Regions from separate parts of the Homo sapiens genome. Here regions 1 and 3 are each linked to region 2. The links come from fine-mapping of genetic effects on gene expression. A gene starts in region 2. Each other region holds a variant in brackets. All regions are shown on one strand. Distances are from middle to middle. Region 1 overlaps RIPK1 (receptor interacting serine/threonine kinase 1). Region 2 holds the start of RIPK1 (receptor interacting serine/threonine kinase 1). Region 3 has its middle 86 kb from the start of SLC22A23.

Region 1 (10,418 bases), 20 kb before region 2:
CGCTCTGCGGTTACTAGGTGCGGCAGGTAGGCGCTCTGCGGTTACTAGGTGCGGCAGGTAGGCGCTCTGCGGTTACTAGGTGCGGCAGGTAGGCGCTCTGCGGTTACTAGGTGCGGCAGGTAGGCGCGCTGCGGTTACTAGGTGCGGCAGGTAGGCGCGCTGCGGTTCCGAGGTGCGGCAGGTAGGCGCGCTGCGGTTCCGAGGTGCGGCAGGTAGGCGCGCTGCGGTTCCGAGGTGCGGCAGGTAGGCGCGCTGCGGTTCCGAGGTGCGGCAGGTAGGCGCGCTGCGGTTCCGAGGTGCGGCAGGTAGGCGCTCTGCGGTTCCGAGGTGCGGCAGGTAGGCGCTCTGCGGTTCCGAGGTGCGGCAGGTAGGCGCTCTGCGGTTCCGAGGTGCGGCAGGTAGGCGCTCTGCGGTTCCGAGGTGCGGCAGGTAGGCGCTCTGCGGTTCCGAGGTGCGGCAGGTAGGCGCTCTGCGGTTCCGAGGTGCGGCAGGTAGGCGCTCTGCGGTTCCGAGGTGCGGCAGGTAGGCGCTCTGCGGTTACTAGGTGCGGCAGGTAGGCGCGCTGCGGTTACTAGGTGCGGCAGGTAGGCGCGCTGCGGTTACTAGGTGCGGCAGGTAGGCGCGCTGCGGTTACTAGGTGCGGCAGGTAGGCGCGCTGCGGTTACTAGGTGCGGCAGGTAGGCGCGCTGCGGTTACTAGGTGCGGCAGGTAGGCGCTCTGCGGTTACTAGGTGCGGCAGGTAGGCGCTCTGCGGTTACTAGGTGCGGCAGGTAGGCGCTCTGCGGTTACTAGGTGCGGCAGGTAGGCGCTCTGCGGTTACTAGGTGCGGCAGGTAGGCGCGCTGCGGTTACTAGGTGCGGCAGGTAGGCGCGCTGCGGTTACTAGGTGCGGCAGGTAGGCGCTCTGCGGTTACTAGGTGCGGCAGGTAGGCGCGCTGCGGTTACTAGGTGCGGCAGGTAGGCGCGCTGCGGTTACTAGGTGCGGCAGGTAGGCGCGCTGCGGTTACTAGGTGCGGCAGGTAGGCGCGCTGCGGTTACTAGGTGCGGCAGGTAGGCGCGCTGCGGTTACTAGGTGCGGCAGGTAGGCGCGCTGCGGTTACTAGGTGCGGCAGGTAGGCGCTCTGCGGTTACTAGGTGCGGCAGGTAGGCGCTCTGCGGTTACTAGGTGCGGCAGGTAGGCGCTCTGCGGTTACTAGGTGCGGCAGGTAGGCGCTCTGCGGTTACTAGGTGCGGCAGGTAGGCGCGCTGCGGTTACTAGGTGCGGCAGGTAGGCGCGCTGCGGTTACTAGGTGCGGCAGGTAGGCGCGCTGCGGTTACTAGGTGCGGCAGGTAGGCGCGCTGCGGTTACTAGGTGCGGCAGGTAGGCGCGCTGCGGTTACTAGGTGCGGCAGGTAGGCGCGCTGCGGTTACTAGGTGCGGCAGGTAGGCGCGCTGCGGTTACTAGGTGCGGCAGGTAGGCGCGCTGCGGTTACTAGGTGCGGCAGGTAGGTACTCTGCGGTTACTAGGTGCGGCAGGTAGGCGCGCTGCGGTTACTAGGTGCGGCAGGTAGGCGCTCTGCGGTTACTAGGTGCGGCAGGTAGGCGCTCTGCGGTTACTAGGTGCGGCAGGTAGGCGCTCTGCGGTTACTAGGTGCGGCAGGTAGGCGCTCTGCGGTTACTAGGTGCGGCAGGTAGGCGCGCTGCGGTTACTAGGTGCGGCAGGTAGGCGCGCTGCGGTTACTAGGTGCGGCAGGTAGGCGCGCTGCGGTTACTAGGTGCGGCAGGTAGGCGCGCTGCGGTTACTAGGTGCGGCAGGTAGGCGCGCTGCGGTTACTAGGTGCGGCAGGTAGGCGCGCTGCGGTTACTAGGTGCGGCAGGTAGGCGCGCTGCGGTTACTAGGTGCGGCAGGTAGGTACTCTGCGGTTACTAGGTGCGGCAGGTAGGTGCGCTGCGGTTACTAGGTGCGGCAGGTAGGCGCTCTGCGGTTACTAGGTGCGGCAGGTAGGTGCGCTGCGGTTATTAGGTGCAGCGTATCCTGTGTTTCCGTTACGTCAAGTGTGTTCGTCATGTTCTTTCTGTCTTCTATATCCTTACTGATTTTTGTTTGCTCGTTCTATCAATTGAAGAGAGATGTGTATTAAAATCTTCAGTTTTAATTGTGGATTTGTCTGTTTTTCTTTGAGTTCTGTCACTTTTGGCTGGTTGATTTTGAGGTCATGTTATTGAAGGTGGATCCACATTTAAAGCGGTTATACTTTCCAGATGAATTGGGCCTTTTATCATTATGAAATATTCCTGATTGTTTGAGGGAATGATTTTTTGCCTTAGAGTTTATCTTAGCTGATTCTAATCTCTTTTTTAAATTATATTTTAAAGTCTCTGCCTGTTTTATTTGTCGTAGTCTCCTGTTCATGATTATGGGGTAGGTTGCTGGAAGATGGATGGCAGTAGCTTGATTCCAGAGTTGGCAGGGGGGCGGGGTGGTCTCCATTCCTCTTAGTTGATTGGTTCCTAACTGGGCCTTGTCATGCCCCTCTAACCCCAGAAACCACCTCCTTGCTTCAGTCTTGGGCAGATGCTGCTGCCATCTGTTGCTAAGTACAGGGGAAGGAGGGAGAGAAGCCGACTTTCCTAAATAGCATAAATGAGGTTCTCAGATGACTCCCCTGTCAACATCCCAGGTGACTGTGCTGTTGCTTCTGCACACTGACCCAAGACTGCCCCTCCGGTACTTCTTCCTCAGCATTATGTCTTGGGCTAGTATTCCTTGTCTGTTATATGTCTCAGCAGAATAATTCTGTGGTCTTTCTATCTTTCAAGAATTCCTCAAAATGGCTGATCCACTTATGGTACTTTCCAATCTTTGCCAGTGACATTGTGCTTTTGTTTTCATATTGCTATATATGTTTTCTCTCATTTCATGAGTTTTGAAGGAGAAATGGGTCCAGTATGCCAACAGGATGATATGTGCAGACAATTGCTCATTTTGTTTTATATGTTTACCAAGCTAGCTTACCTCAAATCTCAATAACAAATCACTTTGTTTTGGTTTTCATGATTGACAGTATATATTTTGCTATGTTAATATTTTGAGCATCTGCTATATTGCCTACCTTTAAACTCTTCACGTCCTCTTCTACACTTTCTTCTAATTGACTTAAATAAAAAGGCCTAAATTTTTCTTCAATGCCTGTAAAAGTAAAATGTACTTTAAATTTCTTAATTATTTTCTAACATAAAATAAAAATATTAGCCATCTATTATCTTTGAATTACTTACCTCAATCTGTGGGCAAAGCTTAAATAAAAATTTAAGCTCCAAATCACTGACTCTGATAGAGACTAATAAGATTAATAGACAGAACAAGGGATAGGCTAACACAGGAAACCAGGGGTTTCTGCCTCAATAGCCTGTGCTCTTTGTGCTTTTTATTCGTGCTGCAGTTTCTCTGGCTGCAACACAAACTGCTCCCTGATGTGAGTTCATCTCCAGCTGAACAGGGATGGGCGAACTCCATGTTTCTGTTCCTCTGGCATCAAATTTATGAGAGATTGGGATAGTCAGAGGAAGGATTTAGTGTAATGGGTTACAGCTGTTAGCCTTAAAAGAAAAAAGAAACTTCCAGTTCCAGGAAGATGGAGTGGACATACTTTTTTCTTAATCTTCCTTCTAAGTACAACAAAAACATCCTATATATTATTTATAAAACAAACATACAGAGTCTCTGAAAGGAGAAGAGAAGGAGGCAGACCAGCAGGAAACCTCGGGATCAGATGAAACACACGATAGTGAGTTCACTGGATTTTCTCTTTTCCTCATATATCTCAGACTTGGCTGAAAAGGTGGCAACCTCAAACCATCAAGAGCCACAGATAAAAAAAAATCTCCAACTAAAGCCTGCTCTTTCTAGCCAAAGAACTAAGCAAGGGGCAGCAAGGGACAGACAGAAAACCTTTAGCCAGTCTACAGCCATGCCATCCTGAATATGCCCAAACTTGTCTGATCTTGGAAGTTAGGCAGGGTCAGGTCTGGTTAGTACTTGGATAGGAGAAAACTTTTAGTCA[G/A]CAACCACTCTGTTCCAGCCAACCACCACAGAAAAAACCCTGTGGCTCCAACCCCACCCACAGCAGCTAAGGCCAAGTGGAGAGCCTCAACATCCAACCGCATGAGACAGTAACAACGTAACCCAACACCCCCACCGGGGTAATGTCAGAGAAGGCCCAACAGGAAGCCAGGGCTGTCCTACCTGCCAGCTGATAATGAGCGCCTCCACTCCCATGGTGTCAGGAGAACACAAGAATAGCCTGGATTTGCCCCACATGGCAGTAACAAGACCACCCTTCCCTTCCCCACTGGGGAAGTGTCAGAGGAGGTCTAGTGGAGAATCGGGACTTTTAACATTGTCCAGTAGTAATGAGGTACCTTCACCTCTGTGTCAGTGGGGACCGTGTGGACTCTGCCAGAATTCCCACCCCTGATCAGCAGTGAAGAGGAGCCTCTGACCTTAGGTGTCAATAAGGGCTGAGTCGAGAGGCTGAACTTCTACCTCTACCCAGCACTAATAAGGTGGCCACCACTCTTCCCTTGTCAGAGCAGTGTCAGGAAAGTTCAGTTAAAACAGAAGGCTTAAAGAGGATACAGAATCTCCAAACATAGGAAGAAAATGTACAAGTTTCAACAGAAAAATTACCCATTACATTAAGAATCAGAAACTGAATGAAATAAGACAATCAATAGATGCCAATACTGAGATGACAGCAATGTCAGAATTACCTGTCAAGGATTTTAAAACAGCCATGATAAAAACGATTCAATTAATAGTTATGAACCTGCTTGAAACAAATGAAAAATAGAAAGTCTCAGCAAAAAAGGGGAGAATATAAATTTTAGAGCTGAAAACTTTAATGACCAAAACATAATAAAAAGCTCGGTAGGCCGGACACAGTGGCTCACACCTGTAATCCCACACTTTGGGAGGCCGAGGCGGGCTGATCACAAGGTCAGGAGATGGAGACCATCCTGGCTAACACGGTGAAACCCCGTCTCTACTAAAAATACAAAAAATTAGCCAGGTGTGGTGGCGGGTGTCTGTAGTCCCAGCTACTCGGGAGGCTGAGGCAGGAAAATGGCGTGAACCCAGGAGGCAGAGCTTGCGCCACTGCACTCCAACCTGGGCGACAGAGTGAGAGTCCGTGTCAAAAAAAAAAAAAAGCTCAGTAGACAGGTTCAACTGTGGAATCGAGGAGAAACAGAAAAATCAGTGAACTGGAAGACAGAATGATAGAACTTACCCAGTCTGAATAAGAGAGAGAAAATTAACTGAAAAAAACAAACAAAAACAAAAAAAACAAAAAAAACACAAAGCCTCAGGGACCTGTGGGACTATAACCATAACCAAAGATATAGTTTTTATGTTGTCAGAATTCCAGAAAGAAAAGAGAAAGAGGGTGGGGGTTAAAAAGTACTTACAGAAATAATGGCTGAAAGCTCCCCAAATATGGTTTAAGAGGCATAAACCTACAGATTTAAGAAGCTGAGCAAAACCTAAACAGAATAAACCCAAAGGAATCCACACCAAGATAAATAACAACTAAATCTCTGAAAAATAAAGACAAAGTCTTGAAAGCAGCAAGAGAAAAATAACACCTTCCCTATAAGGAAAAAAATTTTAGAATGACAGAGTTCAGACATATCCTAAAAGAATGATTAAGGAAAGTTCTCTAAACAGAAAGGAAACAATAAAAGAAGACACCTTGGAGAATCAGGAAGGTTTGATTTTGTTCATGGCAGGTAGCACCTAAAATCCTTGGAGTCTTCTAAGAGTGTCTTTTGGGTGGGGTCAGAAAACTAGGCAACTTCAGAATGGGGGCTAGCAACCAGAAAGACCAAGCTATAATTAGAAGGTTGGGACTTTCAGCTCCACCTTTGACTTCCAGTGAGGAGAGAGGGACTGGAGATTAAGCTCAAGCACCAATGACCATGATTTAGTCAGTCATGCGTATGTAATGGAACTTCCATAAATCACCTTAAACGGTGAGGCTTGGAGAGCTTGAGGTTGCTGAACACACAGAAGCACTGGAATGCGGTGTGTCTTGAAAGGCTATGGAAGTTCTATACACCCTCCTCCCATACCTCACCTTGTACATCTCTTCCATTTGGCTGTTTCTGAATTGTACCCACTGCAGTAAAAGGGGAGACGTAAGTAAAATGTTTTCTTGAGTTATGTGAGTCTTTCTAACGAATTACCAAACCTGAAGTGGGGCTTGTGGGAATACTCAAATAAATTTGTAGCTGACTAAGCAGAAGTGTGAGGAGCCTGGGTACCCCATGCTGGTGAGGATACAAGAACCTGCATCACTCGGACACCGAACATAAAATGGCACAGCCCCTCTGGGAAAATGTTAGGGAATTTTTAAAATAAACTGTACATGAAACTACCATACAACCTAGCTATTGTACCCCTGGGTATTACTCCAGAGAAATGAAGACTTATATTCACACAAAAACATGTCCACGAATATTTACAGCTGCATTAGTCCCAACAGTTAAGAACTGGAAACAAGTCTTTCAAGGAGTGAGTAGTTAACCAAACCGTGGTACATCCACACCATAGAATACTGCTCAGCAAACATCCCGGCACCTTTCCTCATCCCTGTATGACAAGGCCAATCTAGACGGCAAAATACTTTCTAAAGATGCCAGCTAAACAAGGGAGGGGATGGAAATAAAAGAAGTGAAGAAGCAAGAAGGCTGGTCAAAGCCACCTAAGTGCCCATAGACGGACGAATGGATAAACAAAATGCACTCCATTCATACAATGGAATATTATTCAGCCTTGAAAAGGAAAGAAATTCTGACATATGCTACAACACAGATGAACCTCGAGGACATCATGCCAAGTGGAGTAAGCCAGACACAAAAGGACAAATACTGTATGATTCCACTTATATATAAGGCACCCAGTGCAGTTAAATTCACAGAGACAGAAAGTAGGATAGGGGCTGCCAGGGGCAGGGAGAGAGACGATGGAAAGTGAATGTACTATGGGACTGTACTTACTGCCCCTGAACAGTGCACTTGAAAACAGTTACAATGTTAAATTTCATGTTACGTATATTTAAACCCAAGTTAAAAAGTTAATTACAAAAAAAGGAAACAAGAAGGCCTTATGTGCCATCATGCTTTTGAGAGAGAGGGCTTCTTTGCACTGAATAACATGTTTGAAATCTAGAAAATCAGTTTAAAACCACAAGTCAAGTCGAACTCAGTTTTCTGAGGATTCAAACCAAGTTCCTAACAATATGTTACTAGGAAAATCACCACACAGGATGCATCCTACACAGTCAGAAAAGATGCTCTTACCAGGAAATGTCGGCCGAGCTTCCGGATTCGCTTCCCAGCAGAGCTTCATGAGACTGATAATTTCTCTTGGGCAGTACTCAGTGATGTCATCCACATCTGGCCTGTTCCCAGATTTTATGCACATTATCAACTGCTGCTCACAGATAGCATCTACAAAGCAAAGACTTTCTTTCAGGTCTTGCTCCTCTCTCAGGCAGGAAGGTGACAGAACTTGAACAATACTGCTCATTTTTCTCAGCCTCTGGTACAGCTGCCTCATTCCATAGAGTGGAATGGCCTTATGACAAGGAGCTGACATATTCCACTACAGAGATGACCAAACAATATCTTAATGTCTGCAGATAAAACAAAATTCTCGACAAAGCTGCCTGCTGATGGAACAAAAAGATTATGTGGGCAAGGCCAATGGCATGCTCCATGTGCAAAAGCAAATACAGGGCAGTCCTTGTCTTTAGGAGCTCAGTTTAATGAGAGTGACTTAAAACACAGAGTGATCATTGCTATTCAAGAAGGCTGAGGCTGGGCATGGTGGATCACACCTGTAATCCCAGCACTTTGGGAGGTTGAGACAGGCGGATCATGACGTCAAGAGATCAAGACCATCCTGGCCAACATGGTGAAACCCCGTCTCTACTAAAAATATAAAAATTAGCTGGGCATGGTGGTGTGCACCTGTAGTCCCAGCTACTCGGGAGGCTGAGGCAGAAGAATTGCTTGAACCTGGGAGGTGGAGGCTGCAGTGAGCCGAGACTGCACCACTGCACTCCAACCTGGCGACAGAATGAGACTCTGTCTCACGGGAAAAAAAAAAAAAAAAGGATGTACAAGGGGTTCCAGTAGCACAAACCTGACTAAAAAGGTCCAGGAAGGCTTTGTTGAGTCCAGAAAAATTAGCAGGTAAAGAATGGGAAAGGGAGACTTAAGGAGGAGGACTCCAGGAAGAGAAGCAGGATATCAACAGACTAGAAGTTACAGAGATCATGACGCATCCCACAAATTCCTCAGTGTAACTGCACACTGACAAAGAAGGGAGGGTTAGGGACGAGGCCAGTAGAGAAGCAAAGGCCAGAACATGAAGGCCTTTTATTCCACGCTGAGGAATTCGAACTTCATCCTGAAGACCACAGAGCATCTGGGAAGGATTTCCAATATGTGAGGGAGAGGGTTGCATGTGCCTTTTAGGACGACCATTTTGGCTGCCACATGAATGGTGGACGGTGGAAGGAGCCTGCTGCAGAAACGAGGAGGGTTTGAACTGAGCAGAGGCCAGTGGAGACAGAGAAAGGCAGATGGGTTGCAGATATATCTTGAGTCATACATATATCTTGAATTCACAGGTTTTGAGATCTGATAGAATGTGGGAGAGAGGGGCAAGGGCGAGTCTGGGATGACTCTGAAGTTTCTTATTGGGCAACAACTTGGTAAAAGGATGGCGATGCCACTTCCCAAGCATATGAAGAGGGGTGAAGCGGGGCGAGCTGCAGGACAGTGTCGACAGGATGTGTTTGGGGGATGCTGCTTTGGAGGTTCCTCTGGTACCTGCGATGGATCTGACTGTAAGACAAGTGGATATCCATTCCAGAGCCAGAGACACAGATTTAAGAAGCATTTGCAAAGAGATGATCATCAAACCATGGGAGCTGATGATCACCCAAGAAGAGTATGTAGGACAACATCCATCAGTTTATGCACTTAACAAACTGCAGAGTGTCTCTATCCTACACAAGCCACGACTTACTCATCTTTATATTCCCAATGCCGACTCAAGTGCCCACAGTAGGGACTGAAAAGAAATAATTCTTGAATGAAGGAGCAAGTGAATGAGTGAAAGTATGAAGTGTATGCCTTGTAGTGTGAAAGGCTAAGTCCTCACAAGCAGAAACAATCAACTTTCCTGTCTAGGAAGAACCCTGGAATTTCACAGCACCTCTCCAGCTAATGACACACTATCGAGGTTCCTATTCATCCTATGATCACTGATTCCTAAATGGGATTACTCATTCATTCAACAAAAATTTACTGGGCACCTATTAGTTCCAGGCACAGTGCGTGTAGATGCTGAGGGGACGGCAGTGGAAAGTAAGTAATGCCTTACTTTCATATGGCTCCTTATTTGCAAATATCGCCCAGAGTACTACAGCAAAGCTGTACACATCCGACTTCTCTGTGGGCTTTGCGTTGACGTCATTCAGGTGCTCGGGCGCCATGTAGTAGAGGGTGCCGCCATTCTTCTTAGCGGTGCCGTCCACTTCCCTCAGCTCATTGTGCTCTTCATTATTCAGTTTGCTCCACATCTTAAAGGAGGCAAGGCCGAGGTCTGCGATCTGCGAAAGACATTGAGCCACTGGGATTGTTTGGTGAAGGCCGTAAGCAAATCAGATCTGACTTTCAATTTTGGGCTTATCCATTATACATAAGGTACGGTAAATTTTCCAGAAATGGTTGCACTGGGCAGGTTCAAAACAGCGACTTCTCAACAGACTCATAGAAACTGTGTGTCTCCTCAGCCATTTGTAAAATGTCGCCCAGGAAACGTTCACATGAAATTCTGGTATCGTATTCCTTATGCAGTAAGGGGGAGGGGAAAAGCGGAAGATGTTTCTGACAAGAACAGTAACAACCAAACATATTTATTCTCATTCCCCATTGACTCTGCGTATGTTTTTCAACTATTTCTAGGGCTTGGGGGGAAAATGGTTATTTTCTTCTCTGCACATTTATGCAGCAGACAGTGGCTAAATACTACACCTTCTATTTCCCCAAATGGCGTCCAGAGGCCCATGGATGCAAGTGTCCAAGGATCCCAAAGACACACTGAGGATAAGGACTGCAGTGTTGCTTGTTTTGAGCTGTAGCCTGAACCTAAGAGGAGATAGGGTGGAAAGGAGGAGAAAAACAGACAAAAAAGCAGAGAGAAAAATAGCAAGGTCAGACACAGAACAAGAACAGTGCTGGCAGGGCAAAATGACAGGGCAGCACAGTTCAGAAGAGAATATAGGTGCCAGTTCCACTTCTGCCTCCAGGAATCCAAGCAAGCATGTGGGGATGAACTGTGGCACATGAGTACCTAAAATTCAC
Region 2 (10,418 bases):
AAACACGTTTGTTGCCTGCTTTATGTCTCTAGCTATGGTTGGCCCAGCCGCCCACATGTGTTTATCCACACGGGTGTTGTTTCCTTGGGCTTTGAGAATGCCAACATTCTCAGCTGGGATCACTCTGTCAGCAGGGCCCTACTGACCAATCCTAGTGAGAATGAGGTAGGAGCGGGTGGAGACAGAGGGCATAAAAGATAACATTGATTTTAGGCCTCCTTTTTCATTCACTACACATCACTGGAGCAGGCAGAACTGTGAAGCCTTCCCCATTCCATAAGGGTCATCCGCCCCACCCTCTTAGGCCATATTCTTCCAACTTCTTGCCTGGTTAGGTGTCAGAGAACTGTCATTTTGTCAAGGAAGCCATCCTAAGTCTTCCCATTAGACACTTCCATAGGTAAGACAGTACTGTAATTGAGAATTATTTCTCATGAAGTTCACAGAAGGCAGGAAACTTGTCTTGTGCACCATCTCCAGAGCCTAGCAGAACCCAACGTATGCCGGCCCATCATCAATTGAATAACTATTTTAAAAAGAGAACTATTTAATTGTCCAAAAAAATAAAAATAAAAATATTGTTAAATGAATTACGGCACACTCCTAACAGAATATTATATAGCCATTCAAAATTGTTTTTGACGAATAAATCTGTAAAAATTATATTCACATTTGTGTGTGTTTTATATATATATATATGTAAATAGATAAAGATATAAGTACAGATAAAAAAGACATAAAGACACCAAAATGTTAACAAGGATTGTATCTTGATGATAGGTTGATTTTTACTTTCTTCTTTACACTTTTACTATGTTTTCCAAATTTTCCACAATAGACATGAATTAAATGTAAAATTAAAATTATTTTTTTGAAAGGAATAATTCCTTGACTCAGTATTTCTTTACTCTGAGGGATCAAATCAGAGATGCTGATAAAGATTATGTGCAAAGCTGTTCCTGGTAGCATTACATAGAACAGCAAAAGTAGGTAAAACACTTAGCATGTACAGAGGAGAGAATCAGTTATGCCCATCAACACTGAAATATATCTAGCAGTTTGCAAAAGCGATGTTGTGAAAGAATGTTTAATAATATTTAAAAAAGGTCACAGACAGTAAAGAAACAGGCAGGAACTACAACATGCCCTGAAAAATGCCCTTTTGAGTAAAAGGTTTCTACTTTATGAGGAGTCCTATTTGGTATCTCTTCTTCAGTCTCAGCCACATCTCCTCAAATTTGTCAAGACCAACTAGGACCTGCAGGTGCTGCTGTGTGCGGTGGAGTTTGGGAAGGCCTCTAGTTGGGTCCACTGGACTTTGGGAGCTTAGCTCCTGACCCAAGTCAGTTCTCCTTACAGTCTTGCGGTTTGCTAGTTTAGTCTGTTAATCTTCTGCATCTTCTGCATGGTGTTCAGTGATTTCTTTTGTTTTTCCTATCCACCCCTCTTTTTTCCACATGAAAGATTCAACTTTATGAGCACTGAATATCTTAGGAAGGCCTTGTGAGTAGTTGAAGGATATACAAAAACAGTGAATTTAGGCAGCTTATATGGCCATACTGCATAACCATATTATTACAAAGCCATGACACAGAGTGACAAAGACATGCTGGCCTGTTATAGCAAATAATTTTAACTAATAATTACGTCCATTTGAAGGAATTTGTAAATGTTTTGCATAAATATTAATTCAGGGACTCAGGACAGTGAATTTGTTTCTATTGAAATTAATGTGAAATCTCAAGGAATTTCACGATTACCTTCTAAGGCAGGGTAAGTATACATATCAAAATATTCTAATTAACTTTTTCCCCATTTTTCTATGATGACCACACATAACAAGAGAATGGCAGAAAATGCTGGTTGCCCACCTGCCATTGCCCCCTTTCTTCCCACTAACAGAATTCTGATTTTGCTCAGCTATCCAAGTGACCAGAGGATTTCTCCAACTTCCTTGATTACAGCAGCCTGATGCTTTGCCTGGATAAACAAAAGCTCTGAGCAAGGAAGAGACTTAAGGACCAGCAAGAGACAAGAATTGAAACAGAGTTTAAACAAGCATCATAACCCCTGAAGCAAATTTTATCATGATTTCAATTTGCAAATAAAGAAACTAAGATTTGGAGCTAAGTGATTCACCTAAAGTGGTAGGATCCTGGAATGAAATATTTGTCCCTTCATTCAAACTTTCACTATTGGCTCACTAATACATGCTACTTCTCTAGATAGCAAATAATCTGTCTTCGGAAAAATCCAGATGCAAAGACCCACCCTTACAGCCTTACTCATCTATATTAAATAAATGTGCGACAGTCAGAAACACGGAGAAAGTACAGAATAAACTTTTTAAATACAGGAAGGTGAGGTGCAGGGGCTCATGCCTGTAATCCCAGCACTTTGGGAGGCCAAGGAGGGCAGATTGCCAAGAGTTTGAGACCAGATTGGCCAACGTGGTGAAGCCCTGTCTCTACTAAAAATACAAAAATTAGCCAGGCATGGTAGTGCATGCCTACAATCCCAGCTTCTTGGGAGGCTGAGGCAGGAGAACTGCTTGAACCCGGGAGGCGAAGGTTACATTAAGCCGCGATCGCGCCACTGCACTCCAGCCTGGGTGACAGAGCAAGACTCTGTCTCAAAAATAAAAATACACGGCTCATGTATTTTTGAAATATATGGTTCAAAATCAATGTTCTACAGATTAATACAGTCAACCTTTTTTGCCAGAATGTAATATCCAACTAAAGCATGGGAAATTAAGTATTTTCTTCAAATTCCCAGATCATATGGATGTTAACACGTTATAGATTAATAAGCACCAAAAAGTAAGCTGCCCAGTTTGAAAGAGGCTGTTTAAGAGCTTTTCTTAATACTCATTAATATTCACATTCCAGAAAGTACAACATATCTCTGAGGCTCAGTATAGTTCAGACAGAGGAAAATGAGTATTAAAAGTTATCATTTTTGCTATTTTATCAGTAATAATGATACACTCCAAATTTCATTTTAAACAAGCCTAGTCTTCACTTTTTGTGAATAGAAGAGCTGCAGTATTCCCCATTTCTTTATTTATTTTTTTTTTTGATACAGAGTCTCCCTCTGTCGCCCAGGATAGAGTGTAAGTGGCAATCTCGGCTCACTGCAACTACCGCCTCCTGGGTTCAAGCCATTCTCCTGCCTCAGCCTCCCGCGTAGCTGGGATTACAGGGACCCGCCACCACACCTGGCTAATTTTTGTATTTTTAGTAGAGACAGGGTTTTGCCATGTTGGCCAGGCTGGTCTCGAACTCCTGACCTCAGGTGATCCTCCCACCTCGGCCTCCGAAGTGCTCGGATTACAGGAGTGAGCCACCGTGCCCGACGCAGTATTCCACATTTCTAACAAGACAATTTCCTCTTGACTCAGTCCATCTTCCTAGCAGTCACAGAATGCAGATGAGTACTAAGACATTGCACATTTCAAAGTTCACTTCCTGCCTTGGCTTCTTCAAGTGTAAGTCAGGGAAGAATTAATCATTGGAACAGCCTCCTGCTTTGCCCAAAATAAAAAAGAGCTCTGATTAAGGGAGAGCCAAATGGTCAGCAAGAGAGAAAGAACTAACAACCCCAGACCTCCCCCTGCCCCCGCAACCCCCGCATCCCTGTGAGGCTTTGTCAAATGCTTAGGGAAGGAGGATGCAGCCTATCCTCTTCCCAACCCTCAAGAGGGTCCGCAGCACTTCACAAAAGCACCTGCCAGTGACAGAAGCCTGCTAGGGTTACCACATTCGTCCCCTCAGTCGTCTAAGATCACGCAGAAATGCTTTTGTTTTTGGAACCTGCTGCGGCCTCAAGCGCAACAGTAAAAGGCCCTTTCAAAGGGCTGGTAAGGGAAGAGCCCAAACTGTTTTTTCTTAATGATAGGGCACTAGGAGCCCACCTTCTCCACCAAAACAACATTAATGGCGTGTGGGACTGCCTATTCCACCCTCACGCGGTAACCGCGGCCCAAAGGCAGGTCTCCGCCCGCTACCAGTCCAGCGCCCCGACCTCTGGCACAGAGGCGGCCAGCGGACTCCGGATAAGCAGAGACACCTAGCGGAGCACCCCTGACTTCCGGGAGCGCCCGCGGCCCCGCCCACCGCCCGACTTCCGGTACCGGCGGGGCCCGCCCGCCGCGCGCACCCCGGGCAGAGTCCCTCTCCTTCCGGGAAGCCCGCGGCCGCCCCGGCCTCCACGCAAGCACCCGAGCGTTACTTTCGTTTCCGCGGCAAACGTCTGGAGGCCCGGGTGAGGGAAGAAGCGGCGGCGGAGGGTTGGGGATTACTCCGACGCCGCGGCAGCCTTGCCCGGGCGTGCTGGGGGAGGGCGCGCGAACCCCGACCAGGGGGGTCACCGGGACTGAGCCCGGCGGCCTCCGGAATGTTCCCCGCGCGGTGCCAGTCCGCTCACCGCGCCCTTCTCCGTGGCCGCGCCGTCCAGCCAAGTCCTGCCGCGCTCCGTCGGCCCCGCCCGGATGGCCGCGCTCTGGCGCCCCAGCTGTGGGTCCCCTGGAGTCGCCGCGCTCCGGCAGCTGGCCCGCCGTCCGCGTCGAGCGCGCCCGGCTGGAGGGCGTGGACTGTTCGCGCTGCCTCCTCCCCCTGCCCCGGCCCTTGCCGGGGAGGAGGACCGCGAGAGCGCCGCCCCGCCGCTCGTGGGACCTCGCGCCCGGGGTCTGAGTCCCGGAGCTCTCTTGCGGGCTAGAGGATCGCGGACTTTGTTTTCAAGCGAGTGGGGCGGCCTACGTAAAAGAGGAAACCGAAACCTCCGCGCGCACGAGAGGGAGAAGGGTCTGGAGGGAAGCACTGGGTGGATTACAGCGGGGGCGCTATCCGGAGGATTCAGAGCTCTGCGGGTTAGCATAGGCAAGTTAGCATTCCTCTACCTTCATCTGTAAAGTGGGGCTGTTGAGGAGGAAATGTGATTATTTTGCAGCCCTTTAAAATGGTAATTGTGAAGTCTCGAGCAAAGTTGGAACTGCATGCTATTCATGTATATTAAAAATCAAATAATAAAATTATATGCACATCAGGCCGGGCGCGGTTGTTCACGCCTGTAATCCCAGCACTTTGGGAAGCCAAGGCGGGCGGATCACTTGAGGTCAGCAGTTCGAGACCAGCCTGGCCAACATGGTGAAACCCCATCTCTACTAAAAAATACAAAAATCAACTGGGCGTGGTGGCGGGCACCAGCAATCCCAGCTACTCGGGAGGCTGAGGCAGGAGAATCCCTTGAACCTGGGAGGTGGAGATTGTAGTGAGCCGAGATCGCGCCACTGCACTCCAGCCTGGGTGACAAGAGCAAGATTCCGTCTCAAAAGGAAAAAAAAAAAAAGCACAACAGGATTACATACTGTGAAAAGATATGTATGTCAAGAGAACTAGCCACGTTCACAACACGAGCCACAGACTGGGAGAAAATATTTGCAAAAGACATATCTGATAAAGCACTGTGACCCAAAATATACCAAAAAAAACCCTCTTAAAATGCAACAATATGAAAATGTACAACTTGATTAAAGGCGGGCAAAAGCTCTGAACATACACCTCACCATATGTATATGCATATGAAAAGATGCTCAACATCATGTCATTAAAGAATTGCAATTTAAAAAAACAAATACTATTACACATTTATTAGAATGGCTAAAATTCAGAACACTGACAACAACAAATGTTGATGAGGATCTGGAGCACAAGGAACTCCCATACATTCCTAGTGGGAATGCCTAATGTTAGAGTCTGGAAGACATTTTGGCAATTTCTTAACCAAGCTCTTCTTACCATAAGATGAAGCAACTCCACACCTTGGTATTTACCCAAACGAGTTGAAAGCTTATGCCCATACAAACACCTGTACAAGAATGTCTATAGCAGCTTTATTCATAATTGCCAAAACTTGAGGGCATCCAAGATATCACTTAATGGGTGGACAGATAAGCTGTGGTACATCTATACAATGGAATATTAAGTGCTAAAAAGAAATGAGCTCTGAAGCCACAAAAAAAAAAAAAAAAAAAAAAATCCTGGAGCAATCCTAAATGTATAAATCTAAGTGAAAGAAGCCAATCTGAGAAGACTACATAATGCATGATTCCAACTATGTGACATTCTGGAAAAGGAAAAACTACGGAGATAGTAAAAAAGATCAGCGGCTGCCAGGGATTTGCAGGGAAGGAGGGATGGATAGGTGAGGCACAAGGGATTTTTAGGGCAGTGGAGTCTGACGTTACAGGGTTGGGTACATCTCTATACATTTGTCAAATGTATCTTGAATATACACAAAGAGCAAAACCTAACAAACTCCGGACTTTGGCTGATAATGTATATGTTTTATCCATATTGGTTCATTTTTGTAACCATGAATCTATGTTGGTTTATCAGGTGTGACAAATATTCCACAGTAATGCAGGATGTTGATGGTAGGGGAGGCTGTACAGTCCAGGATGTTTGTGGAAGGGGATATTTTCTTTCTGCTTAGTTTTGCTGTAAACCAAAACAGCTCTAAAACAAAGTCTATTCATTATTTTTTAAAAGATGTACACATATCAAAAAAGACGAAAGGCAGAGCTATTCACTCAGCAAAGCTTTCTATCTACTGTATGCCAAGCAGGTACTAGATACAAGAGCATCTGGTGATAGATACAAGAAATACAAAAAGGAATTCATTCCTTCAGTAAATATTTACTGAGCACCTGTTCTAGGCACTGAAGACTCGGTTGTGAATTAAACACAAAAAATCTCTATGTTCTGGCCGTGTGTAGTGGCTCACACCTGTAATCCTAGCACTTTGGGAGGCCAAGTCGGGCGGATTGCCTGAGCTCAGGGGTTCCGGACCAGCCTGGCAAACATGATGAAACCTCGTCTCTACTAAAAATACAAAAATTAGCTGGGCGTGGTGGTGCATGCCTGTAGACCCAGCTACTCAGGAGGCTGAGGCGGGAGAATTGCTTGAACCCAGAAGGCGGAGGTTGCAGTGAGCCAAGATTGCTCCAGCCTGGGTGACAGAGCCAGACTCCGTCTCAAAAAACAATAAAAAATAAAAAACTCCACGTTCCATTCGTGGAGCTTGCATTCTAATGGGGAAGACAAAAAGTTATTGCCCATCACTGTCCTCTAGACATCATGTGACCTTGGGAGGTTGGAAATGCGTTGTTTTTGCTTCATTTTGTGTTCAGTGTTTTAACTCAGAAACATCTATTTGGGAGCTTTACTCATTACTCCCAGCAAAAGCCATGAGTGTAGACTGTGCATGAGATGAAGGAACTGGTCCTTGCAGAACACCAGAATGGAAAAGGCAAGAAACAGCCCAAGGTGAGGAAAGAAAACCAGCGAGAACAAAGAGCTGGTACTATCTCTGAAGCCCGTGGAGGCCAAAGTGTGAATATGAGGGGGTAGGTCTCTTGGCCACAGGCCTGAAACCAAATGAACCCCCACCCCCAGGCTGCAGTTCCCAGTGCACTTGGAAATGAGACCCTGACTCCTCCAGGTGAGCCTGGGAGACCTCCCTGACTCCTTTCCATCTCCCCCTCCTCCCCCACACCCATCTCCAAGGCCTGCCCTCTACGCCCACATTTCTTCCCACTTTGGATCCTGTGCCTGGTCTAATGCCCAGGCCCCCTCCCGAGCCTCTGGTCTCCCTAGAGCCACTCCCCACTGTCGGGACACCTCATCTGTGCTCCCCAAAACGCCACGCAAAGCACTGGAGAGCCTTGGACAATGAACACAACCCGCACCCCCAGCCACCCCCGCCACAGCCGCACGGCACCTCAGAAAGCCGTGTCTTTTTTTTTTTTTTTTTTTTTTTTTTTGAGACGGAGTCTGGCTCTGTCGCCCAGGCTGGAGTGCTGGAGTGCAGTGGCGCGATCTCAGCTCACTGCAAGCTCCGCCTCCCGGGTTCACGCCATTCTCCTGCCTCAGCCTCCCGAGTAGCTGGGACTACAGGCGCCCGCCACCACGCCCGGCTATTTTTTTGTATTCTTTTTTTTCTTTTTTTTAGTAGAGACGGGGTTTCACAGTGTTAGCCAGGATGGTCTCCATCTCCTGACCTCGTGATCCGCCCGCCTCGGCCTCCCAGAGTGCTGGGATTACAGGCGTGAGCCACCGCACCCGACCAGAAAGCGGTGTCTTAATCCTCTTGTCCTTCCTCCTAAATCTCCTGGGGCCCTTAGGATCCGCTTAAAGCCACCTCGTTAAAACGGTTTCTTCTCCACCTGCCCCTCCCTTGATCCAGCCTCACTGAGGTCACAGCCTCCACCTCTGGCCATCCTGAACCCCTCCCAAAGTCACCTCTTCGCAAACTCCTGGTCCCCCTTAGAAGGCCCCACGTCCATCACGGGATTAATTCCACTCACCCTCAAACACCGCGGCCCGGAGGCTCTGATTCCCACCCTAGAGGAGGTTCTCTTGACCCCGCCGGCGCGACCCTCCCCAGCACGACCCTTCCTCCCGAAAGTGATTCCTCATCTTGCTGGCGGGTCCCACAGACCGCAGGCTCTGCAGGCGAGCGCTGAGCCTGGCTCTGCAGATTCTCAGTCCCTGGAGGAGTGCTCCGGGGAAGGAAGGGCCCCATCCGTTTCGCTGAGTTACTGAAAGAATTAGAATGGGTAAGAGTGCTCGGATTTAGAACTGGAGACTAGTGACTTTGAAAGACAGAAGAAGAACCAGGACAGACGTCATCCTGCGGATCCCAGAGCAGAGAGGAGCAGTGAGAACACAGGGCCGGCAGGTGGGGAGGAGGCTGCAGGGGAGGGCTTCGGCCAGGGAAGGGCAGCGAGGAGGCGCCGGGGAGGGCGGCGTCCGCGCTGGCTGGGAGCTGCGGAGGCGGAAACCGGCTGCGCGCTGCAGGGGACCCCCCACAGACCGTTGCTGACCCCGCCGAGACACCACCGCCTCCCCGGGGCTCTTGGCTGAGCGACCTCTCCTGTCTTCAGGTCCCATCTTTCGGTGGCAGCCGGTGGACCTGAAGCTCGCCACTCCCGTGCTCCACCCCGGCCGTGCGCGGGGACGTCCTCACCTGCCACCTAGTCTCCGTGTCGCGCTCCGAGCCTGGACGCCGACTCCCGAGGCGCAGGACCGGGCCCTGCTGCTGCGCTCGCCGCGGACTCCCACTCGGCCCCGGCGGGCACCGCCTTTTATATAGTAGCTTGTGACGCCACGGAGCTTTTCCCACACTTGACGAGCAGTCTAACTGGGGCTCCGCCTGCCGGGACTAGCCGGGGAGGCGCGCGCGTTCGCGCGGCGGCGGAGGGCAGGGCTAGGCGCAGAGGCAGATCCGTCTACCCCCAGTCCGCCCCGCCCAGGGCGATGTCCGCCAATGCTCCCGCCAGCCTGAGGCCGGCCAGGTTCCCAAGGCGCGCGCTCGGCCTCACCCACCCCCGGCGCCAGGGCCTCTTCAGGACCGGGTTCAGAACCTGACAGCCCAGAGAAGTAGGTTGGGAGCCTGCGGCGTCCAGGGCCTCCGCGCGAAGAAACAAGGCGTCTGCGGGAAAGGAGACGGAGCCTGGAACCCTGGGCTTTTCTACTTAAGGAAGCGAAGGTCGGGTGACAGCCAAGCTCCCTGTTCCAGTGGGAAGGCCCCATGGGTCTGTGTTCCACGCCTCTTGTCATGAATATGGGGGATTCACTTAGAACCAAAGCATTTGTTCCAGGTCCCACCACTAACTAGTACTAGTCCTGGGCCCAGAACCAGGCGTCCTCACTCCTAGTACCCAAGCCCTTCTCTAGCCACAGGTGTTTGGGCTGCGGTGTGGTGTAAGCAGCCCCATTTTCCCGCAAAGTGATGGGAAGAGACACTGAGTCACACGGGCTCAGGACACTCCTTGTGTCCTCTATCAGGGGATCCAGAGGCAGGGACTCGGGGGAGTTGATGCAGCAGTTCGTGATGTCATCAGATATCCCCCCACCCCCTTCCATCTCAGGCTGGACTCAATTGGAAGCATTTCATGTTGGCACGGTGACGTCCAGAGGAAGGGAACAGACAAATGGCTCTCTCTGGAGCACGGAGCGTCGCCCAGAAGCCGTGCCCTCCTGTTTCAAATTGACCAGAATTAGAGCTTTCTCCTGAGGGCCTGAATTAGGGAGAAGCAAGCCAGGTGCCTAAGGCACAAAATTTCAGGAGGGCCACACGCATAGGTGCCAACCCTGCATTTGCGCGGCCCTGAGAATCAGAGCCTCCTTCAATTTGACACCCTAGGTGCCTAGCTTGTTCTTATTAAGGTTGGGTACGGTGGCTCACGCCTGTAATCCCAGCATTTTGGGAGGCCGAGGCAGGCAGATCACGAGGTCAGGAGCTCCAGACTAGCCTGGCCAACATGGTGAAACCTCGTCTCTACTAAAAATACAAAAATTAGCCCGGCGTGGTGGTGCACGCCTGTAGACCCGGCTACTCAGGAGGCTGAGGCA
Region 3 (10,418 bases), 470 kb before region 2:
GAGTCCGAAAAGAGAGTCAGCAAAGGGTGGTGGGATTATCATTGGTTCTTACAGGTTTTGGGGATAGGCGGTGGAGTCAGGAGCAATGTTTTGGGGGCAGGGGGTGGATCTCACAAAGTACATTCTCAAGAGTGGGGAGAATTACCAAGAAACTTCTTAAGAGTGGGGGAGATTACAAAGTACATTGGTCACTTAGGGTGGGGCAGAAGCCAATCACAATGGTGGAATGTCATCCGTTAAGGCTATTTTCACTTCTGTGGATCTTCAGTTGCTTCGGGCCATCTGGGTGTATATGTGCAGGTAACTGGGGATATGATGGCTTAGCTTGGGCTCAGAGGCCTGACTATGATTTGTGAGAGTCACACAGCTTGTGTCAAGCCAGGACTGGACTCTAGATCTAAATCCCAGCCCAGGGATTCTTCATAGTATGTGACACTTCCTTTCTATACCTAGGTGCACTTCAGGTTTTAAGTTAATAACTTGAATCATTAAATCATGTACATTAATGTACATAAAGACACATCTACTCTGTTAAAAGATGTTGGAAGACTTCTAAGAATAATGAGAATATGCCTGTAATTTTTAAACACCCTCTCAGAAACCTATAAAAAGGAATCATAAGAATGACAACTAAACTGAAAGGAAGGAAACCTTCTGTCATTTTTACCAATTTGAAAAACTATCAGCCAGAGGGAACACAGTTTAAATTTAACTATATAACAACCTTATTCACTGACACACAATGATGCAATGTGTTAAGTGAATCAGCTTTTGGTAGGTGTGTAGGGAGCCATTGGAACATCCCAAAGCCTCTCAAGTAGGTAGCTGGTTGCCCTCCTTGATTCTGGAACATTCTCCCACTTAGTATCCTCGCTGGGATGGGGGCTTGAGTGTTTTCGATCAGGATGTGCTAGAGAAGGAATGACATACAAACCTATACAAGATGCTGATGGAGTCCTACCAGGCTAGACTGTAATTTATGAATATAATCAAGCAAAGGTAACTTATTGGACTCTTGAGGAGAATGAGCAAACAGAAAGGAAATTAAACCAGGCAATTGGTCTGAAGGACTTTCAATTAAAAAGATTTACTGTAGGAAACAGAAGATATCTTTTATAAATTCTGACTGGTATTCACAGTGACACCTAAAAGAATAAAACCACAACAAAAACTCCTAGAACCAACTAGGTATACAGAAAATAGTTGTAGAGGAGAGAACGATCATCGAAGAAGTACAACATTAAATCAAGGAACTGAACACTAAAAAGAACACTGTTGAAAATAAAATTTGGGGCCGGTCAAATTCCCCTAATGAGCAGATACTTTTCTTACCTGACTTTTAAAGGGGCTCTTTATCCCAGGATAAAGAGTAGTATTTGACCAAAAATGATTTTTTTTCTCCACCTGTGATGGTTAATTTTAGGTGTCAATTTGTCTGGGCCACAGGGTGCCCGGATGTGTGGTTAAACATTATTCTGGGTGTGTCTGTGAGGGTGTTTCCAGAAGAGATTAGCCTTGAACTGGTGGACTGTATAAAGCAGAGGGCCCTCCCCTCCCCAAGATGGGTGGGTCTCATCTGAGGCATTGAGAGCCTCAGTAGAACAAACAGCAGAGGAAGAAAGCATTTTCTCTCTGCCTGGCTGCTTGAGCTGGCACATTGATGTTTTCCTGCCCTGGTGCTCCTAGTTCTCAGGCTTTCAGACCCAGACTGGAATCTGCACCATCGACTCTCCAGGTCTCAGCCCTTCCAGCTAAACCACCAGCTTTCCTGGGTCCCCAGCATGCAGACTGCAGATCATGGGACTCCTCAGCCTCCATAATTGGTTGAGTCAATATTTTATAATAAATCACATATATATAATATACAATTATATGTATTTATATTATATATACTAATAATAAATATGTATATATATATTATAAATATACACACATACATACACACACACATTATATACTATTGGTTTCATTTCCCTGGAGAATCCTGACTTATACACCACCCTAAGATATTGAAACTGCTTGCAACTTCCAAATTCTCATTGCATGCAATATTGAAAATTAATGCGTTTTAAACTTTTCTTTTTTTTTTGAAACAGGATCTCACTCTGTTGTGTAGGCTGGAATACAGTGGCAGGATCATAGCTCACTGCAGCCCTGAACCCCTGGGCTCAGGTGACCTCAGCCTCTGGAGTGGCTGTAATGACTGGCATGCACCACAATGCCAGCCTCATTTTTAACAATTTTTTTAGTAGAGATGGGGTCTCACTATGTTTCCAGCCTGGTCTCTAACTACTGACCCCAAGCAATCCTCCTGCCTCAGCCTCCCAAGTAGCTAGGCCTACAGGCGTGAGCCACCATGCCCAGCCCCCAAGGCTATTTTTTAAGGAATGGATACTAGAGGGAGAAATATGAATTAAATTCTAGATCATTTAGGATAACCCAAGTGATAAGGAGAAGAAAAGGGAAGTAAGTGCATGTTACAATTCTTGGCTTACATGAGGGCTGGTGGTTATGAATAATGTTTACTTAACTTTGATAGAATCATGTAGAATAAAATACATTTGTTATAAAGGTGACCACTGTTAGAATAACACTTAGATGTAATATTTCATATTGCTAGGGGAAGAAAAAAGGACAAAAAATGATCAAAGAAGGAAGAGGCAGGAAAGGTGAAAAGAGGAAGCAATAAGAAATCATAGTGAATAGAAAACATAAAATAAGAAGGCAGGAGAAAGATTGGATATGACGTTAATCACAATAAGTAATAATGTACATGGAACAAATTATTGCCCTTGCTATGTCTTATATTTGAAAATAAAAGAATAAACAACATAAAAAAGCAAAAATTAGCTAAATGGTATTTTAAGGTACATACCTAAAACAAAATGATAAAGAGAAAAAGGTAGAAAATAAAGAAGTGGGCAAGGATATATCAGGAAAATGCTAACAATGACAAATGGCAAAAATACCAACATCACACAAAGCACATTTTATAGTCAAAAACATCAAATAAGGCTGAGGAATTTTATTGATAAAAGATAATATCTCTAAAGAAATTGTGGCAGTCATATACACTTACACACCAAATCACATTGCAGAGACCTACTTCTATTGAAAGAAAAATAATTTAGGAATTCAAGGTTATTTTGGTAAAATCACAATGAGCTTTAAAACACTTATATCTAAATTTAATAATTTCATTAGATAAAGAGTTAATACGATTAGAGCATTTGAATTGCTTACACAATAAGCTTTGTTTAGTAGACATACTATTTCTGTACAAAACAGAAAATCTTTTCTAAATGTTAATGGATAATTTATAGAAATTGTTCATAGACTGTGCCTTAAAGAAAATCTTGACAAATTCAGAGGCAAAGATAGATAAATAGCAATTGAACATACCACATTCTGGCAACAAAATATAGCCCTCCACATCTAACCTAGAAATTTAAAAGCATTTATAAATAACTCTCAAATTAAAGATTAAATAATTATACTAAGATTAATTAATTAGAAGATAACATAAAAAAGAACTCTACATTTCAAAGTCCATGGAATGTGGCCAAAACTCTTATCAAAAAAATGCAAAAATTGTCAAAAATACTTCAAAAAGCAGCCTCCTTTACTGTTCCAAGCATAGATTCTGGAGTCAGGTTATGCAAGCTCAAATCCCAGCTTTCCTGCTTACTTAATTTGTGTCATTTTGGAATAATTACCTAACCTCAAGGTGCTCCATTTCCTCATATATAAAATGGGGAGAATAATGTCTATCTTTAGGGTGTTGTGAAAATTAAATAAGGAAATCCATGTGGCCTCCTTTCATAAGTGGTCTCTGAGGAGAAAGAGAGAAAGGGGAGTAGGGAAAGAGACATAGACAGAGGAAAAGATAGCTAGATATCTAGATAATAGATGATAGGTAGATAGACATGGCAGAAGATAAATGATAGACAGAGGTAGATATACATGGTAGAGAGATACGACATAGACAGATATACAGGATAGATAGATATAAGTAGGTGCATGATTGATAGATGATAGATAGATAGATAGATAGATGATAGATATAGATGGATGGATGGATAGACAGACAGACAAATAGACAGATGGATAGATTGATTGATAGATGATAGATAAGCAGAAAAGAGAGAAAGGGAGAAAGATGGAGACAGAGGGAGAGAGAGGGAGAGATTGATCGATTGAGAGATTTCAATTGAGATTTCATAAGTGTCTCTGAGGAGAAAGATTGAGAGATTTCAGCACTGTGATGTGTTGAATCATGTTCTCCAAAATTCCTTTGTTGATGTTCCATCCCCCAGTACCTCAGAGAGTGACTGTATTTGGAGATAGGACCTTCAAGGCGTTAGTTTAAGTGAGGCCACGGGGGTGGACTGTAACTCGACATGACTGGTGTCCTGTAAGAAGAGGAGATGAGGACACAGACATGCACAGAGGGAGGGTGCAGGGAGAAAAAGCCATCTGCAAGCCAAGGAGAGGGGCCTCAGAAGAGACCAACCCCCCTGACACCTTGATCTTGGACTTCCAGCCTCCAGAACTGTGAGACAGTAAATGTGTGTTGTTGAAGCTGCCCAGTCTGTGTATTTGTTACACAGCCCCAGCACACTATAATACAGACAGTGCCAGCAAACCTGCCCTCCACACCTGGCGTGGACACCATCAGAAGATGGAGTTCCACTGATCCTGCAAGCCTTGGTTGCCGGGTTTTGCGTGGTATGAGACACTCACCGAACCGAGTGTAGGTCTAATGTTAAATACGTATATTTTATACAACACCGCCCCTGAAGAAAACAACCCTCCGCTCCCAAGTACTGAAGTGGAAAAACAGATTAAATCCAATGATGGAGGGAAAATGGTCTCCGCAGGCCTCACTGAGTCCAGCATTCCATCCACTGTGCTCTATGGTCAGTCTGGGGGATTTTTCAACTGCAATTAATCTACATGCAATCTCGGCCCTATGGGCTACTTTAGAGCTTCACCTTTACCTCAGCTGTCACTCCACGGGATGGTGTGGGTGGCATCAAGGTTGGTGGTGAGAGAGAAATCCACAGATAGATCCCCAGAAACACACACACACACTGTGTGTTCAGCACGTGGGGTGGGGGCTCCACCCTCCTCCCTTGGCGATTCCTCCAGGAAGAAGTTTGCATCCAACAGCAAAAGAGGCAACAAAAAATCACTATCAATAGCTGAGCAAAAGTAGAGTTGCCCCCTCTTGCCAGTGCTGGGCTTTCAGTAGAGTCTGCTAAGGGGAGTCTACACAGCTAGGGTCCACCTCACTGCTTTATAAACCAGGGCGCCCCAG[G/C]GTCGGCTGCAAGCTGTTGACCTATGTCCAGGGATCTCTGACTGCTGAGGTTCAGAAGGTGGACGCACATGTTCTTCCTGTGCGTGGCCCAGGGGAAAATGCTGAGGCACATTCTACACAGTGCCTCAGAAGGTCTCTGGGGGAAGGAGCTCTCCATGCCCTCAGTGGGGATCAGCTTGGTAACTCTCCCCTGAACTGGCTTCCCCTCTGCCTCTGACTACCTTCCTTCTCTCACACTCCCGTTCCCTGGAATTGTTTCCCAAAGCCACCTGCACACAGCCCTGCTGCAGGCTCTCTAGGTACTCCACCCACTGGAGGACAGGTGAATCAGTACCACAGGCTTGGAGCCCAGTGTGGTGACACACGGTAAAATGTAAGGATCCAGAGCCCTTGACTCTATGGCTCCTCCTCTAGAAATGTATTCTGCAGAAATGTGCATGAGAACAAAAAGATAAACCCTTCCATCCATTAGGATGAATCCATTTACTGTGTTTGTTCATCCACTTCTGTTCATCTGTTTGTATGTTCTGTTCCAGGCAGGTGGTGACAAAGGCAGATAAGGCGCCTACTCTCTTTGCATTTGGGGAGTTAGGCAGGAAGCAACACATGAATGCACCAGCATAGCCTCACCATCATTGTTCTTGGTAGGAAAAAAGAAAAAAAAGAAAAACTAGAAACATCCAAAATTAAAGGAAAGGGGTTAAATAAAGTATATTGTGTCCTTACGAAGGATTAGCATGAAGCCATTAAAAAGAAGCCGGTCTACAAGTACCTATATGGAAAGATGGGAAAGACTTATTCAGTGAAGAAAGCAAGTTGCAGAACTTACGTCTAGAGTAAGTCTGTTGTTTTAAAGTGTTACGTATTTACACTCATACATTCACACACACAGCTACCAGGATTATATCTGAAATATTCTTGATGAATTTTTCACTTTTGCCTAAGTACATAAACCATTAGCATCCCATCCCTAGACAAGATCTGGGTTTGCTGCAGGAAGAATACAAAGAGAAAAGATAGGAATGGCTAGGAATGCAAGCAGGGCCTAGGCACGTATCTGCCTCTCTCTGATCTAACTCTCGTCAAACAAATAGTCACGCAGAATAAGCCTAATCAGTAAGATAATTTGTAAGCTGGGTTATTGTCTTGAAAGAGAATGCTCCAGAGGTTTTTATCCCCCTGAGGGCTCTCTTGTGTTGGAGAGAAGAGGCGTCTTTCCTTTAGTCCCTCTGTCAGCTAAACCAGGAGACTTGCAATTCAGCAAACGGTGGTTTGAGGTAGGAGAGAGGAGCGGAGGACAGGAAAGGAAGAGAGAAGGGCCTCTGGGTCAGAAGTCCAGGTCTTATTTTTCTCCTTTCTTGGCTTGAGCCCAGAGCGGTAGAAGCACATTCACTAAATGAAAGTGACACTTTTACAGCAGGCTTCTTCCTCTGCTGCCTCTCCAGGACTTTGCAAAGTGCTCCCTCCCGGCTGGGCGCAGTGGCTCATGCCTGTAATCCTAGCAGTTTGGGAGGCCAAGGTGGGTGGATAACCTGAGGTCAGGAGTTCAGGACCAGCCTGGTCAACATGATGAAACCCCGTCTCTATTAAAAAAAAATACAAAAATTAGCCAGGCGTGGTGGCAGGCGCCTGTAATCCCAGCTACTCACGAGGCTGAGGCAAGAGAATCGCTTGAACCAGGGAAGCGGAGGTTGCAGTGAGCCGAGATCGTGCCATTGCACTCCAGCCTGGGCGACAGAGCGGGACTCTGTCTCAAAAAAGAAAAAAGAAGTGCTCACTCCCCAGCCTCAGGAGTGGCCATGTCAACCCGGGGGGCACAGCCACACAGGCAAGGGCAGCCCTGGGTTGGCCTCAGCGTCATGCGGCATTGACACTGGGTGGACATGCACTGGCCGGCCACAGGCCTACTATGGCGGGATGTGGGGATTCCAGGTGAGGGGCATGGATGGTGGACAAGATAGAGAGAGGTTTGGGGGTCTGCAGACGGTGGTGCTGAGATGAGCTCTCCTCTGCCAGGGGAAGCCTCTCCTAGGCTCTGCACAAGCCAGGGGAGGACCAAGCTGTGAGTGACACTCCAGGTGCCTGCTGCAGATGCCAGGGGGAAGTGGCCAGCAGGCACATGGGGACACAGCCCAAGAGTGCCAGGCCTTCTGTCTTGCAAGAGGTCATTAACTGCCCCTGCTTTTCCACCCAGCCAGCAGAAATGGGGAGGGGAAGGCAATTCATAAGTCTGGGCATGTTTTGCCTTAAGAAAGTGAAAATTACCTGAAGAAATTGTTTACATTTTCAGATCAAAATTTGGGCCACATTAGACATTAACTTAAATAATTTTTTAATTAAAAATATAGCATCATTAGAAATGTTTCCCCTGCTAAGCAGTGGGTAGGGCTCAGTAGGACGACAAAATTAGATGTCGATAGAGCAAAGAATCTACATGTTTCTCTGCGCTTCTGAGTTGTAGTCTGAGTAAAAAGTCTAATAAGATTCCCAAAGCTTTACTCCTGGGAAGAGGGACTGGACACAGGGGAGTGAGGCCCAAGGCACACTGGGCAGGGATATTTTCCCTTCTCTTTTGTACACCTTATGCTTTTTCAAATCAGGGAATGGAGAGGTATAAAAAGCAGCCCCTGGCAAACATTTGGAAAGACAGTTTCTCTCTTTCATGAAATCCCAACTCCATACTCCCTGGAGTCCTTTGAGTTTTCCCTCTTTCTGGGCCCTTTAATTACCAACTCACATTCAGTTCCTAGTTCTTCTGTCAGTGGCTGTCCAATGGTCGCAAGAGACTTTTGTTTTTCTTTCTTTGCCTAAGACCTATCAAACATCCTGAATTGGCAGGTAATGGCTATGGAAAGCAATGAGACAGTATTACTGCACATTTCATCCCCCCAATAGTTCACTCCTGGCAAATTCACTCGGGGAGAAGCATTATTTAAAAGATATTTGGGTAGGGGATAGAAATAAATGAACAGGCCACTCCAGGCTTCCTGACTGTCTCCCCTCGCCCTTCCTGTCAGCAGGCCTTGTTGTTGGGCTTGACATCTGCAGATCTTCCTTTCAACTCGGACCCACTCCAGACCTTGAGATCCCCAGGGATCATGCAGAGTGAAAGTGAGCTTGCGTCACCCACCTCTCCAGTGGACTAGAGCTCCTCAGGACTAAGATATTCTGGCTTCCTCCAGGGGAGGAGGTAGGAGAAAAATGAATAAGAGGGAAATGGGAAGGAAGAGAAGGAAGCAAACTCCCAGAAGAAGTTTGCATCCAACGGCAAAAGAGGCAACAAAAAATTACCATCAATAGCTGAGCCAAAGTAGATCTAGTTCCTTCTGCATCCCAAGCATCACGCTAGGTAGGTACTCTCACAAAACACGGCTCATTTTTTTTAAGGTGGATTTTATTTTACTCATTTAAACAGCTTTATTGAGGTATAAACCCCACCCACAGAGAGAATATTTCTATCCTCGCTTTTCAAATAAAACCATGAGGAACAGAGAAGTTGAGCAACTTCCCCACCATTGCAAAGGTTTTAGATAACGGGGCAGAGATTTGGTGCAGAACTGTGAAGTCTCTGAACTCCCCTCACCCCACTCACAATAATGCTCCTGTTACAACAAAGAACGAAGAAAACGAGCGTTCCTGGGATGAATCCATATTGCTCCTGTGGAGTAAACCATGACTAGGAATGCAAGCGGGGCTGAGGCACATATCTGCCTCTCTCTGATCTAACCCTTGTCAAACAATGTGATTTCCTTTCCACACCAGAGTGGAGATCCTTTCTCTGCCCTATGGCTGCACACCTGCAGCCTTTGTCCATAATTTGTACACTTTACTTCCTGAAAATACCGGCCTGAAATAGCAAAGATAAGATGGTGCTCCATCTGGGCTCTGTGTCCATGGAAATGTCGGTTTCCTGGCTGACTTCACCCTGTCCCTGTAGCCCTTGTCTGTCATTCCTGTTGGGGGCCATGCCCTGCTTTGGAGTGGTGTGTGTCCCTGTTGGCATGGCTTCCTGAGAGCTGTCACTGAACCTGGGAATCAGAAGTAAACCCAAAGGGAAAGCATCTGCTCCTAAGAGCAGAGGGTCTGATATTCCTTCAGGTTATACCACAAGCAAATGTATGCACAGAGGGCGAGTGCAGGTGGAGTGGCCAGCCACAACCACTAGAGCACAGTGACAAGGCTGGCACACCCCCACGCACCCTCCCTGCTCATCGCAGACCCTTTGTGAATACGTCACTCCAGGAGAAAGGGAAACAAATGCCCTGCTAGGACTTCACCTTCTTCTTCCATGTGAATGTGGGTCATAAGCACACGAGCATGCCTCCCTGAACCCCAGTCTTCTCATCCCAGCCATGCTGCACCCTCAGAGCTGCCCCTGGGGCTGGGGGCCCTTAACACACTCTCAGGTAGGATCCTGGAGGTCATCCGAAACGTGGGATTTTTAATGCTTGTTCAAAAGCCCACAGACACCTCTCTAGGACCATGTCACCAGGTAGCCATTTCAGACGGGGTCTGGGGACAGCTCCACCTCTGAGTGTCTCACTGACTTTTTCATCCACTTTGAATGCTTTCTTTATGTGATGTCAATTTATTGATCTCCTGTTGTATGCCAGAGCGCTCTTTAATGTATCCTCCTCTGCACTCCTCTAGATATCGTCCCAAAGCCAAGGGTTAGCCACTGGGGAGATGGGAAATCCATCTATGTCCTCCGAGAAGCCAGAGAAGACTTGTGCACCAATAGCTTGTACACAAGCCTGTAGTAAGAATGAGGAACACATGTCCCGCTCCTGCCTTTGTGATAAGGCCTGAAGAGGAGCGAAGACCAAGGCCTGAGATAAGAAAGGGTCCATCCAGGCCACCTGTGCTTGTCCAGTCCATGCAGAGCCAAGTTCTCCTGACACAGAAAGCACTGTGGGGGAGCTGGCACGGGGCCCTGGGTTCCACAGCACAGCCCCCCTTCTGAAGCACCTGCTGGACATTATGCATCACCCCCGTCCATGGTGACAGCCAGAGCTCAGGAGCCCCTTTTTTTGATAACAGTTGTAAAAGTCCTACATTGAAAATATGAAAATGTCATTAAGGTAACCTATCAGCTGAA

What was found. PIP is the estimated chance that this variant, and not a neighbour inherited with it, causes the effect. A credible set is the group of variants that fine-mapping cannot tell apart.
Region 1: its variant is the best candidate, but not a certain one, in a credible set for the expression of RIPK1 in tibial nerve (GTEx, PIP 0.78).
Region 3: its variant is the best candidate, but not a certain one, in a credible set for the expression of RIPK1 in anterior cingulate cortex (GTEx, PIP 0.88).

The regions. Positions count from the first base shown.
Region 1 is chr6:3,082,331-3,092,748 of GRCh38, reverse strand. It overlaps RIPK1 (receptor interacting serine/threonine kinase 1), which reads right to left. Exons shown (of 11, transcript NM_001354930.2): 5 at 9,436-9,664; 6 at 7,341-7,490; 7 at 3,092-3,168. It also overlaps the pseudogene RNA5SP201. Among named protein-coding and RNA genes, the nearest start is that of RIPK1, 19 kb to the right of the region's middle. The variant G/A (reference allele first, on the strand shown) is at 4,043.
Region 2 is chr6:3,062,672-3,073,089 of GRCh38, reverse strand. It overlaps RIPK1 (receptor interacting serine/threonine kinase 1), which reads right to left and starts at 4,596. Exons shown (of 11, transcript NM_001354930.2): 1 at 4,429-4,596. RefSeq lists silencers at 3,938-4,727, 8,781-8,890, 9,081-9,370, 9,401-9,450.
Region 3 is chr6:3,537,445-3,547,862 of GRCh38, reverse strand. No RefSeq gene overlaps it. Among named protein-coding and RNA genes, the nearest start is that of SLC22A23, 86 kb to the right of the region's middle. RefSeq lists an enhancer at 7,233-7,733. The variant G/C (reference allele first, on the strand shown) is at 5,321.